Linked DNA regions of Homo sapiens. The protein of the gene in region 2 purifies or fractionates together with the protein of the main gene of each other region. This does not show direct contact. Each region holds a gene or a part of one and is shown on either strand. Other genes may lie near its edges.

Region 1 (3,500 bases), on a different chromosome or scaffold from region 2:
CCAGACTGCCTGGGTTCAAATTCCAGTTTCATTACTTACTAGTTGTGTGGTCTTGGCAAGTGATCCTCAGGCATTTCATCTACATGACGGAGAAAACAATAGTACCTACCTGAAAAGGTGTTATGAAGTTTACACAGTGAATAGATGTTAAATGCTTATGACAGTGCCTAGCACGGACCAACCCCCACCCCACCCCCCCACCCCTCCGCCAAATAAGCTATTATTATTGTATAGATGCTAGATAAATATATTTATTCACAAAAATCCTGTGGAGCTGAGAGGGCTGCTAATAAGAATGTTATTTTTAGGAACAGCATCAAAGAGCATAGATTCTGGAGTCAAACTACCTGGTTTAAATGCTGCCTCCAACATGACAAAGCTATTGTGCCCTTAGGCAAGTTGCTCTTCTGTGCCTCGGTTTCCTCAACTGTAAAAAATGGGGTAATAGTACTGACAAATCATAGGCTTATGAAAATTAAATGAGTTCATAGTATAAAAGGCTGTCACACTAAGTGTTCAAGAAATGTCTCTCCATTTGAGTTGAGAATTTTGAGTTTCAAGGGACTTGCCTAAGGTCACACATACAACAAACCAGTGAGAAGGCTGTTATTTCAAGTCAGTCAAAAGATCTTCCATTTGATTAAGATGCTTTAAAAGTCAGATTATGTCACTACTCTTTGTGAAATTTTATTGCTTTCTACCTTATTCAGAGCAAAAGGTCCTATACTTACAGCCCCAACATCCCCCACACTCTAAACCTAACACTCTTCTCCCACGGTCACCCTGCTCCAGCCACACCATGTTCCTTGAATAGGCATACTCACATCTCAGGTACGTGGGACCTGTTTCTCCTGCCAGGAATGCTTTCCCCAGATACATGCATTCCTGGCTACCTTGGCCTACCTTGTCTTTGCTAAAACGTCACTTTCTCAAACAAGTTTTCCTGATCAATCCATTTTAAATGCAAAACCACTCCACTGCACACATATTCTCCTTCTGTGCTTAACATTTTTCTCCAAAGCAATTGTTACCACTAATATAATTCTTGTTTGTCTCTCCCTATCATAATGTAAGCACTATATGAGCAGAATTTTCATTTTAGTTCACTGCTCTATCTCTGAGGGCCTAGATTATCTAATCTATAGCAGGTGCTCAGTAAGTATTGTTTGTGTTAATTATATATATAGAATAACATAAGGCCGGGCACGGTGGCTCACACCTGTAAACCCAGCACTTTGGGAGGCCCAAGCAGGCAGATCACTTGAGGTCAGGAGTTTAAGACCAGCCTGGCCAACATGGTGAAACCCTGTCTCTACAAAAATACAAAAAACTAGCCGGGCATAATGGCGGATGCCTGTAATCCCAGCTACTCCGGAGGCTGAGGCAGGAGAAGTGCTTGAACCTGGGAGGCGAAGGCTGCAGTGACCCAAGATTGCGCCATTGCACTCCAGCCTGGGTGGCAGAACAAGACTCTGTCTCCAAAAAAAAAAAAAAAAGGCTGGGCACAGTGGCTCACACCTGTAATCCTAGCACTTTGGGAGGCTGAGGCGGGTGGATCACCTGAGGTCAGAAGTTCAAGACCAGCCTGACCAACATGGAGAAACCCCATCTCTACTAAAAATACAAAAAAATTAGCCGGGCGTGGTGGCACATGCCTGTAATCCCAGCTACTCGGGAGGCTGAGGCAGGAGAACTGCTTGAACCCAGGAGGCGGAGGTTGTGGTGAGCTGAGATCACACCATTGCACTCCAGCCTGTGCAAAAAGAGCAAAACTCTGTCTCAAAAACAAACAAAAAGCATATAAAAGTTGTCTAAAGCTGATTTACACTATCTATTATAGACTCTTAGAACTTGAAAGTTAAGATTTTTGCTTTGCTCAGTTTTATCTCCAGTGCCTCACACAGTGCACACACATAGTAGGCACACACCTATTTTCTGACTGCGTGATATTCAAAATTACTTACATTTCATCAACCCCTCCCAAAGGAAAATCAGTTTTTTGAACCTTATCTTTTCTAATGCTAACAATTTACAAAAATCTTAGGAGTTTCATTAAAAATTGTTAAGAGTCTACCCATAGAGGAATCAACTTCTATCAACAGAAAATCTAGCTCCTAGAGCTTCTGGGAATTAGAAATACATCATGATGACCAGTATCACTGTAGAAGGGTCATTCCCATGAGTGACTAGTTTCCATTGTAAATTAATGAGTATTATCTCAAGAAATAATGAGTAGGTTCCTGCTAAAAATGCTACCAGCTCGGTACAATCAGGTTAACCTTAATTATAGCATTTTCTTATACAGGGGCTAGGCATACAATGGATCTTTACCAGTCTCAACTCATCTCTCAATGCAAATGTCACAAATCACAACTAAAGTCTGACCAGGTCAATCTGGAAAACTTGAAACATTGAGTCAATGGCATAATGTATTACATACAATGGGCCTGTGCTAAAACAGCTAAATTAGCTTTATCATCAACGACTTTCTTCTAAAGCTCAAGAAAAAGGTTTCTTGTTAAGAAACCTAACGGCCCTCTTGGATAGTTTATACTGACAATAAATATAGGCCATATATATTTCATTTATATAAATTTACGCTTTAACATTAACATTTTACAATTTAATATCCCACATTTAGCCAAGTGGATGTGTATACCAACCTGGTCACAACAGGTTTATCACAAAATATTTATTGAGAACCTATTGAATATTGGATAACATTCTTCAGATCACATTATTTGGAAGCAAAGGTGAATGAGAAGTGCAGACAACATGGGGTTGCTTAACAGTATTTATTTGTTTTGTTAAGTTTTACCTTTTAAAAAACCCATGTCTTGAGGCACCCAGCACAATGAATGAAAATCGTGGAACGCCTTTAAAATAACATAGTCACGGTCAGGTGCAGTGGCTTATGACTGTAATCCCAACACTTTTGGGAGGCTGAGACTGGCGGATCACCTGAGGTCAGGAGTTTGAGACCAGCCTGGCCAATATGGTGAAATCCCGTCTCTACTAAAAATACAAAAATTAGCACGGCATGGTGGTGCGTGCCTGTAATCCCAGCTACTCGGGAGACAGAGACAGGAGAATCACTTGAACCTGGGACGCAGAGGTTGCAGTGAGCCAAGATTGCGCTACTGCACTCCAGCCTGGGCAACAGAGACTCGGTCTCAAAAAAATAAAATAGTCACCAATCACCAACCACCAGTGTTATTTTAACTTCTTCTTTCACATTTTTTTCCAAACAATAGTCTTAGTGAATTTATTTGGTAGGCATTCAAAATATACAGAGACACAGAGAACTGACTGATTTAAATTTGTGTATGAATAAAGCCGTTTTTAAGCTAGACAATTCTTTAAATTTTTTTTTAGTGGCGAGCAAAGTGAACGCCACTGCTATTTACCAGGAAAGTAATTAAGCCTATTTCTCTGACAAGTTAAAATGTATATATCTTTTAAGAAACTGGGTCTCACTATGTTGCCTGGGCTAGATTCAA
Region 2 (3,500 bases):
TCAGATCTGGAAGCACCCTTAGAGCTGCAGTCTCACATCTGTTTCAATACCTGCTAAGGACCTGTCTTTCTTCAACTGAATAGAGTCTATTTAAACCCATAACTAGAGTAATGAGCTAATGTAAGTAACTTTTTGTTGTCCCCAAACCTCTTAATGCCCTACCCTTCCTGCTTCTTGTGAGAGGATTCCCCCCATACCAATAAATAGTTGACAACACCCATCCTTTCTATCCTGTGTTAGGGACTGACCTCACTAACTCTCTCTTTTCTCTTTTTTTCTTTTTGAGACAGAGTTTCACTCTTGTTGCCTAGGCTGGAGTGCAATGGCATGATCTCGGCTCACCACAACCTCCAGCTCACCACAACCTCTGCCTCCTGGGTTCAAGTGATTCTCCCGCCTTAGCCTCTCAAGTAGCTGGGATTACAGGCGTGCGCCACCATGCCTGGCTAATTTTTGTGTTTTTAGTAGAGACGGGGTTTCTCCATGTTGGTCAGGCTGGTCTCGAACTCCCGACCTCAGGTGATCCACCCACCTTGGCCTCCCAAAGTGCTGGGATTACAGGCGTGAGCCACCGTGCCCAGCCCTCACTAACTCTCTAATTCCTGGTTCAGTAAGAACTACTAGAAATGAAAAAAGATGGCTAGGGTAACAAGGCAGAAAAACCAGTCTCTTTCCTAATGGCTCCAATGACAGGGAACTACTACTTCTCCAGAAAAATTGTCTTTTACAAAAGCTCGTACTGTAAGAACAATTTTCTTGGGTTGAGCCAAAACCTGCCTCTCTATAACCCTACATATTGGTCCTGAGTCAGTCCTCAAAGGCTATACAGATTAATCTTTCAGGCACATTTCAGACGGAGAATAAAATGAAACTACGAGTTAAAAAAAAGAATGTCCTTTAGAAACAATAAACCACAAGCTGTGCCTGAGTGCCACCAGCTGTTGTGGCTGCTTTTTTGATTGCCTATGGAAAAATAAACACACATGATTAAAAAGTAGCCAGTGTATTTTCTAGAGGAAGGAAAACTAGAAATTAACTTATATTTTCCTAAAATTGAAAAGTTTTTGTTATAATTTCAACAAACAAATTAGGACATATTGAGACAGAGACTGTGGATGTTGTAGGATACTTAGAAAAAAAAGACTAAAGCATCTTATAAAGCCATTTTTGAAAGCTAAAATGTGTTCTGTCTAAAAAAAATAGAAGGCTAATGGATAAACAAAAAGGAGGAAAAATAATCAAACATAACTCAATATTAAATAAGAGAAGAGAATGTAGTAGTATAGAAAGGTCAGTGAAAAACCATTAGGCAGCAACTTGCAGAAAACATGGGGAATAAAAATAAAAGAATAAGAGCATAAATTTAAAAGTATATGAATATTTTAGGGGCTGGGTCTGGTGGCTCATGCCTATAATCCCAGCATGTTGGGAGGCCAAAGCAGGAGGATCACTTGAGGCCAGGAGTTCGAGACCCCATCTACACAAAAAAATTAGCCGAGTGTGGAGGCATGTGCCTGTAGTCCCAGCTACTTGGGAGGCTGGGGTGGGAGGATCGTTTGAGTCCAGGAGGTCGAGGCTGCAGTGAGCCATAATTGCGCCACTGCACTCCAGCCTGGGTGACACAGTGAGACCTTGTCTCAAAAGAAAAAAAACAAAAAAAGCCAGGCATAGTGGCTCATTCCTGTAATCCCAGCACTTTGGGAGGCCAACATAGGAGGATCACTTGAACCCAGGAGTTCAGGACTGGCCTGAGTAACATAGTGAAACCCTATTTCTACAAATACAAAAATTAGGCAGGCATGGTGGTGCATGTCTATAGTCCCAGCTACTTGGGAGGCTTAGGTGGAAGGATCACCTGAGCCCAGGAGGTCGAGGCTGCAGTGAGCCAAGATCGTGACACTGCATTCCAGCCTGGGCAACAGGGTGAGACCCTGTCTCAAAAAAAAGAAAAAAAAAAAAAAAGAAATGGGTAGCCAGTGAAATTTTGGTTTGGATGACATTAAAAAAGGACTGTCAAAAAAAATGTCAGAATGCTTTTTTCAAAGCAAAGTAAATGCAGGGAAAAAAAACCCACAACAAGTAAAGAGGACAGCAAAGTGGAATTTATCTTGTGCTATGAACATTTAAAAAAAAGAAATGCAAACAAGTAGAATAGAATGTTAAAAATGCTAATGCAGGAACATTTTAAATGGGTATGAAAATAGTTTTTGTGACAGCAGAAAACATTTCCAAATTTTCAAATTATAAATTACTTAGAAAAATAAATTAGCATGTCATTTTAAGGAAAAAGTTATCTCCCCTACCTTTTTTTTTGAGACAGAGTCTCACTGCCTAGGCTCAACTGCAGTGGCGCAATCATGGCTCACTGCAGCCTCAACTTCCCCAGGCTCAGGTGATCCTCCCACCACAGCCTCCTGAGTAGCTGGAATTACAGGCACACGCCACCATGCCCAGCTAATCTTTAGAGATGGTGTTTCATCATATTGCCCAGGCTGGTCTCAAACTCCTGGGTGATTCACCAGCCTTGGCCTCCCAAAGTGCTGGGATTACATGTGTGAACGACTGTGCCTGGTCAAAATGATCATTTAATATCTTTTCTGGAGGACACCATGAAAGACCATGTACCTATGTCAAGGATCAGCTTTCTACTTGAGGAAAACAGCATTGCTGATGACTGGATGCAATAAAACACTGAACAGAAAACTTGAGTTTTTAGCTTGGTGTATCCATAGCAATGGACAGCAAGAATAGTGGCAGTATCTCAAGAACAAAATAAGCTAATAGAAAGTGAACATTAAGGACTGGTTGGTTAAACTGGAAGATACGAACGAGCTTTTTCCAGGTCATTCAAACACAGCCTGGATCATAAATGAGCACAAAACAGAAATGAATCTAAAGCCATAGGTCTTGGCTTAGGCCTTTATAAAGCAGGGTGTTCAAAAAGTTCATTCCTTGAAGTAGTTTTTGCAGGGTCACATGCCCTGGCAGAGGTGATGGACAACCTGTGCCACATCCCTTTCTTCACAATGGCCAGACTAGCTTATGAGAGAACAGTAAAGCTGGCCAGAAAGATGATCTTTATGGTTCCTCCCCCCATGTAATCTGACTACCTAAATTAAGCATTCCAGAAGGTTCAATTCAAGAAGTTTAAAAATCAGTGAAACTAGTTCTAAAAACCTTGTAGAGTCTGAAAGCAAGTTAACAAAAAAGGCAATGGGAAAGAATGTTTTGTATCCCTCTAAATAAACAAAATCAGTCCTGGTAAGCCTATATGCTGGTCTGCTCCTATATCCACTACTGGCTGGGAAGGAGAACTGTGAATGGGAGGAGTTTTCAGGATGGAGATGATTTCAAAGATCGCAGGAAGTGTGTCAGGTGGTTTCACTTCAGGATGCCCAGGCCTGGAGGAACAGAAAAATGGTTGGTCCCAACACTTTGTTGAGAAGCAGCCCACTGTACCAACACAGATGGGACACTCTGGATATTAGGACCCAAGCAGC
Region 3 (3,500 bases), on a different chromosome or scaffold from region 2:
GTCTCGAACTCCTGACCCCAAGTGATCCACCCACCTTGGTCTCCCAAAGTGCTGGGATTACAGATGTGAGCCACTGCATCCGGTCACATTTGTTTTTTTAATTGCTATAAATTTTTACTGTTGGTCCTAGATCTGGGGCAGATGAGAGGCTGTTTCTTCACAGTGGAGCCAGTAATTACAGGATCCTTAAGGAATGAGGACATCGGTATACCCACTTGAAAAAATATCAGTGTTTCATCCAGGTTAAATATCAGCCGAGATCTCACATACACTAATGATTCTAGATCTGGAGCAGTGGTTCTCAGTGTGGACCAAGAACCCCTTTCAGGGAGCCTACAGAGTCCAAACACTTTTCATTATACCAAGATTGTTTTCCTTTGTTACTGCATCAACATTTACATTGTTGGTGTAAAAGCAGTGATAAGTAAAACTGCTGATGCCTTAGCATGAATCAAGCCAGTGGCACCAAACTGTTCTAGTAGGCGTATTCTCTGTTCTCAGACCATTGCAGTTAAAAAGAAAAAAAAAGGCCAGTTTCACTCAAGAATGCCCTGAACAGTAAAAATTATTAAAGTCGTGACCCTTGAGCTACATGTCTTTTTATTCTGTGTGATAAAATGGGAAGTACGCATAAAGCATTTCTGTTGCATACCAAAATATGATAGCCATTTCAAGGAAAAGCACTTATGTGTTTGAGTTGTAAGGTGAACTAGCTACTTTTTTTCATAGAACACCACTTTCACTGGACAAAATCAATGACATTTCAAGGAAAACAATTGAAAGTGTTTATTACCCATGATAGACATTCAAGCTTTCGGCCAGACGCAATGGCTCACGCCTGTAATTTCAACACTTTGGGAGGCTGAGGCGGGTAGATCGCTTGAGCTCAGGAATTTGAGATAAGCCTGGGCAACTTGGTGAAACTCCATCTAAATTTTGTTTTTTAATAACAAAATTCAGGCTGGGTATGGTGGCTCATGCCTGTAATCCCAGCACTTTGGGAGGCCGAGGCGGGTGGATCACCTGAGGTCAGCAGTTTGAGACCAGCCTGACCAACATGGAGAAACCCCATCTCTACTAAAAATACAGAATTAGCCAGGCATGGTGGTGCATGCCTGTAATCCCAGCTACTCGGGAGAGTGAGGCAGGAGAGTCACTCAAATCCAGGAGGCGGAGGTTGCAGTGAGCCGAGATCATGCCATTGCACTCCAGCCTGGGCAATAAGAACAACACTCCATCTCAAAAAAAAAAAAAAATTCAAGCTTTCAAGCAAAAATTAGAATTTGGAAAACTTACATCTACCACAGTAGGCTTGACAGCTTTTCAGTACTTAAAGACCATTGTGACAAAATTGATGGTGATATTAGTAACTGATTTTTAATATAATGAAATGTGTTAACATTTGGATGATCTGTATATAACCTCAGTGAACCAATATTTTCCAAATGATCAATGTATGACATTACAAAGTCAAGCATGAATAAAAGCTCAACTCAAAATACATGATAAATAAATGGATTATAATGTAACAGAGTGTGAAAACTTCAGTAATATGGTTTCAGATTACACAATGAAAATAACTTTTAGGAAATGACCACTTGTCAAGTTTTAGTGTAAAATAAAAAGTATCTGAAAAGGGCTGGGTGCGGTGGCTCATGCCTGTAATTCCAGCACTTTGGGAGGCCAAGGTGGGCAGATCACTTGAGGGCAGGAGTTTGAGACCAGCCTGGCCAACATGGTGAAACCCCCGTCTTTGGGATTGGTGGCAGGCATCAGTAATCCCAGTTACTCAGGAGGCTGAGGCAGGGGAATCACTTAAACCTTGGAGGAGGAGGTTGCAGTGAGCTGAGGTTGTGCCACTGCACTCCAGCCTGGGAGACAGAGCAAGACTCCATCTCAAAAAAAAAAAAAAAAAAAGGTATCTGAAAAGGCTACTAAAATACTGTCCTCTCTTTTTCAACTACGTATTTTTCCTTTGCTTTTTTTTCTTTTTTTGAGATGGAGTCCTGCTCTGTCGCCCAGGCTGGAGTGCAGTGACGCAACCTTGGCTCACTGCAACCTCCTCCTCCTCCCGGGTTCAAGAGATTCTCCTGCCTCAGCCTCCCGAGTAGCTGGGACTACAGGTGTGTGCCACTACGCCCGGCTAATTTTTGTATTTTTGGTAGAGACGGGCTTTCACCATGTTGGCCAGGCTGGTCTTGAACTCCTGACCTCAAGTGATCCATCGGCCTCAGCCTCCCAAAGTGCTGGGATTACGGGTATGAGCCACTGCTCCAGGCCTGGAGGCAAGAATTTCTTATAGGCTTAAATAAAACCAACCTATTGCAATAATTTGAATATAGTAGGAGCTATTTAAGTCGACATTAATAAAGAGATTTGTGAAAATACAATAGTGTCACTCTTCTTCCAATTTTTTTTATGTATCCAGAACTATGATTTTTTTTTTTAACTACCTATAGAATGCTTATATTTTTCTTAAAAAATAAGTTTAAGAACCAGGCATGGTGGTGCATGCTTGGAGTCCCAGCTACTGGAGAGGCTGAGGCAGGAGAATCACTTGAGCCCAGGAGTTTGAGTCTAGCCTGGGCAACATAGCAAGACCCTGTCTCTGAAAAAAAAAATAGTTTATAAAAAATAATTTAGCCAAATTGATAGGTGGTGATGTGCTTATGTTTTGTATACCTACTACACTAAGCTATGAAAAGAATAATAGAAGTGACTACTACTTTCTGGAATTGGAAATTCTTGGCCATACATTTTTTAAAAGTTATAAACAACTCCATGTTTTTAAACAGAATAGAACTCCCTCTAAAAGCAGAGCTATCTCCAAAATAAATATTAGGAGTGTTTTTAAATGCTTAGAGCTAGGTTAAACAGCTTTATTCAAAACATATTTAAATGTTATATGGTGAAATATCTTCTCTGTCCTCTGAGGTCTTTGGCATTATAGAGAGATTCCTTAGTCTGCTTCAATGTTGTTCAAATTCGAGGTTTCCTTAAGAGTCTCTTTAGGAAGTAGGTTGGTGTTAGGCTAGGCACAGTGGCTCATGCCTGTAATCCCAGCTACTTGGGAGGCTGAGGTGGCGTGAGAATTGTTTGAACCGGGGAGGTGGAGGCTGCAGTGAGCCAGGATCGCACCACTGCACTACAGCCTGGGTGACAGAGCGAAACTGTCTCAACCAATAAAAGAAGTAGGTTGGTGTTTATATTGAAAATAGGAACAGAAAACAAACTAGCTATACTTTTTAGGATCTAAGCTGAGAATAAATTAATTTTTTTGCTTTCTCTAGCTGGAATGGCTTTACTTGTGTAAAATTTGGAAAAGATTATTTTGCAATAAAATCAAACTTACAGAATTGACTCTTGAATTCTAGACTAACTTTGAATAATTGGACCTGCAGATTGACTATCCACCATTTGAAAAAAACTTTTACAATGAGCATGAAGAGATAACCAACCTCACTCCACAGCAGTTAATAGATCTCCGGCATAAGCTCAAT
Region 4 (3,500 bases), on a different chromosome or scaffold from region 2:
CTATGTTGGCCAGGCTGGTCTCGAACTCCTGACCTTGTGATCTGCCTGCCTCAGCCTTCCAAAGTGCTGGGATTACAGGCATGAGCCACCGTGCCCGGCTTTACCTCTTTTTAAATTGGGTTGTCATTTTATTATGGATTGTAAGAGTTCCTTTAGTATCTTATTAGATATATGGTTTGTAAGTATATTCTCCTGTTCTGTGGGTTGTCTGTTCACTTTTCTTGAAAATATCCTTCGAAGCACAAAAGTTGTTTTGAGGAAATACATTTTTTGCTGCTGTTGCTGGTGCTTTAGTGTCCTACCTAAGAAACCATTGCCTAATCCGAGGTCACAAAGATTTCCACTATGTTTTCTTCTAAGAATTTTGTTGTTTTAGTCCTTGAGTTTAGGTCTTTCATACATTTTGAAATTTTTTTTTTTTAATAATAAGAGAGAGGGGGTTCAACTTCATTCATTTGCATATGGATATCCAGTTGTCCCAGCACCTTTTGTTGAAGACTGTTTACCATTAAATCGTCCATCGTCTATTTACCATTAAATTTTCTAGCACCCTTGTGGTTTAATATACAAATAATTATAAAAATCACTTACTATGGATACAACAGAAGGATTGGACATGCTTATCTTGCATTTCACATTAAAGCACCCTGGTATACTGTGTAACACAAAGCATCATGGCCAGGCATGATAACTCATGCCTGTACCCTCATGCACTTTCGGAGGCTGAGGTGGGAGAATCGCTTGAGGCTAGGAGTTCAAGTCCAGCCTGGGCAACAGCGAGACCCCGTCTCTATAAAAAAAAAAAAAGTGTGGTGGCACGCACTGGTAATGTTAGGTACTTGGAAGGCTCAGGTGGGGAGAATTGCTTGAGCCCAGGTTTGAGGTTGCAGTGAGCTAGGATTGTGCTACTGCACTCCAGCCTGGGCAACAGAGGGAGATCCTGTCTCTAAAATAAAAAGAAAAAGCGATATGAAATGACCACAACATACCACAGTTTGAGAAGGATGGGTTTACACAAGTAATCTAGAGAGTTTTTTGATGTTACTGCTGTTTCTTTTCCATTGTGAAATGAGGCTGGTGTTAGCTAGCCAGTGGGTACACTAGAGTCAGCAAAGATAGGCCTGGGCCATTTTGTGCTAGCTTTCTCCTTCCCTCCTGCTCTTCCTCTTTTCCTCCTTCCTGTAGTGGGACTTTAATACAGAGAATTGTTAACATAGGTGATGGAAGACTTGAGATGCCAAAAAGGGCATGATGAGGCAGTCGAGAGATTAGCAGCAGTAAGAAGCAAGTAGTGATATATAGAGGGATACAAGTAGGAGATGGTTCTTGGAGGCTGGGGACCAGAGTTACCTGGTGGGAACTGGGCTTGTCCAGAAGGAGCAGAAACATTTGGGAGATTCAGTCTTAGAGAGAAAGGTTCTCCTACCTTCCGGTCAAAGCCAATGGACAAGGGAGCTGCAGCTTATTTCTTAGTGAACGGAATATAAAACCATTCCTTAGAATAATTTCCTTACCTATAAAAAAATCAGTCTGGTTAATTCCAGCTTGTCTTTTTACTGAGAAGTAAATTTATTGAGTATATTTAAATATTTGTGAGATTTGGCCAGTCATGGTGGCTCAGGCCTATAATCCCAGCACTTTGGGAGGCTGAGGTGGGCAGATCACTTGAGGTCAGTAGTTCAAGACCAGCCTGGCCAATATGGTGAAACACCATCTCTACTAAAAATACAAAAATTAGCTGGACATGGTGGTGGGCACCTGTAATCCCAGCTACTCAGGCTGAGGCAGGAAAATCACTTGAACCCTGGAGGCAGAGGTTGAGTGAGCTGATATCAAGCCACTGCACTCCAGCCTGGGTGACAGAACGAGACTCCGTCTCAAAAAAAAAGATTAAAAAAAAATTTGTGTGATTTGACTATATATTAAAATCTCTTTCATAATTAGTCAACAATTTAAGCAACAATTAAATTATTAGTGCTGTGGAAAATATAGAAGAAAGATAATTTCTTATTCCCCTCCTGAGGAAAGCATTTGATACACCTGGAAAGGAGCTGCTATGAAGCCAATTTATCTGTTCTTTTTATCAATTCAGCAGCATTTAAGATCAGATTTTTTCTCTAGTGGTCCAGCAGAGGGAGCCCTAGCACATGAATTGTTTTCATTTTGTGCTTGCATCCAGGGTTAGTTTAGTGGGAAAGTGGTAGTCTATCCCTTTTAATTATAATTTAAGCAGTTCCTCCTTTCTTTTTTGAGACAGAGTCTAGCTCTGTCATCCAGGCTGGAGTGCAGTGGCGGCATCTCGGGTCACTGCAGCCTCCACCTCCCAAGTTAAAGCAGTTCTTGTGCCTCAGCCTCCCAAGTAGCTGGGATCACAGGCGTTCGCCACCAGGCCCAGCTAATTTTTGTATTTTTTGTAGAGATGGGGTTTTGCCATGTTGGCCAGGCTGGTCTTGAACTCCTGGCCTCAAGGGATCTGCCTGCCTCAGCCTCCCAAAGTGCTGTGATTGCAGGCGTGAGCCACCATGCGTGGCCTAGTAGATCCTCTTTTTCAAATTGTCAGAATAAGTTAGAAATAATTATCATTTTGTTCAAGGTGGGAGAGATGGTTGGGGGGGTGGTGAAAGTTTTTACACCATATGAGTAAGAAAGCATATTCTGATGCTGCTATCAATTCATAAGTGAGTGGTTTTGCTGTCATAATTTTCCGGTCTCACTGTCACCATGTTCATTCTTTTCTGTTGGATTATTTTAATTGTTTCATAACTAGTTTCCTTATTATCTGTCTTCTCAAATTATTTATGATATTGTCAGATTGATCTTCCTAAAGCACAGTTATAATCACTGATCCTCAGTCCTGAACGTAATTATATTTAAAATCTAAAGTGCTAATCTTGACTTTGAAAACCTTCTCTATGCTTTGCCCCTAGAATGCTTACTAGCATTTTCTCCTAACTGTTCCTCCATAAAAAGTACACTGTCGTGCTTGCAGTTTTTCACAGCTCTGCTTTTCTTTACACTGGAAGTCTTCTCCCCATTTTTTTAATGTCCAAATTATAGCCATCCTTCAAAACCCAGCGCAAAAGCTACTTCTTTCAAGATACCTTCTTTGATTTTCCTCACTGGAAAGAATCTCTTCCTTTTTCTTACACTCTTTACCTTTCTTATTGCACTTAGCTTTTAAAAGCTTGCATTATAAGTTGTTTACATACATGTCTTGTCACTGTACTAGATAAAGTATGAGCTCTATGAGTTAGGATCTGGCCATCTAGCCTAGCTTCGTATTTATTTTTTGAAACAGAGTCTTGTTCTATTGCCCAGGCTGGAGTGCAGTGGTGCGATTTTGGGTCACTGCAACCTCCGCTTCCCAGCCTGAGCAATCTTTTAGCCTCCGCCTCCTGAGTAGCTGGGACCACCGGTGCGAGACACCACTCTCGGCTCATTTTTGTATTTTTTTGTAGAGACAGGGTTTCGCCATGTTGCCCAGGCGGGTCTCAAGCTCT

What was found. The genes of interacting proteins can lie anywhere in the genome.
Region 1: the proteins of FAM76A (region 2) and PRP4K purify together in Homo sapiens (affinity purification with mass spectrometry, with the first as the bait; one large-scale study listed by BioGRID). This does not show direct contact.
Region 3: the proteins of FAM76A (region 2) and DDX42 purify together in Homo sapiens (affinity purification with mass spectrometry, with the first as the bait; one large-scale study listed by BioGRID). This does not show direct contact.
Region 4: the proteins of FAM76A (region 2) and NSRP1 purify together in Homo sapiens (affinity purification with mass spectrometry, with the first as the bait; one large-scale study listed by BioGRID). This does not show direct contact.

What each region holds. Positions count from the first base shown.
Region 1 is NC_000006.12:4,024,300-4,027,799, reverse strand, and holds part of PRP4K (serine/threonine-protein kinase PRP4 homolog), read right to left. Parts: intron 1-3,500. UniProt on the Homo sapiens protein: Serine/threonine kinase involved in spliceosomal assembly as well as mitosis and signaling regulation. Connects chromatin mediated regulation of transcription and pre-mRNA splicing.
Region 2 is NC_000001.11:27,749,961-27,753,460, reverse strand, and holds part of FAM76A (protein FAM76A), read right to left. Parts: intron 3,402-3,500; coding exon of another isoform or gene 3,239-3,401; exon of another isoform or gene 1,915-3,238; intron 1-1,914.
Region 3 is NC_000017.11:63,801,670-63,805,169, forward strand, and holds part of DDX42 (ATP-dependent RNA helicase DDX42), read left to right. Parts: intron 1-3,401; coding exon 3,402-3,500. UniProt on the Homo sapiens protein: ATP-dependent RNA helicase that binds to partially double-stranded RNAs (dsRNAs) in order to unwind RNA secondary structures. Unwinding is promoted in the presence of single-strand binding proteins.
Region 4 is NC_000017.11:30,123,316-30,126,815, forward strand, and holds part of NSRP1 (nuclear speckle splicing regulatory protein 1), read left to right. Parts: intron 1-3,500. UniProt on the Homo sapiens protein: RNA-binding protein that mediates pre-mRNA alternative splicing regulation.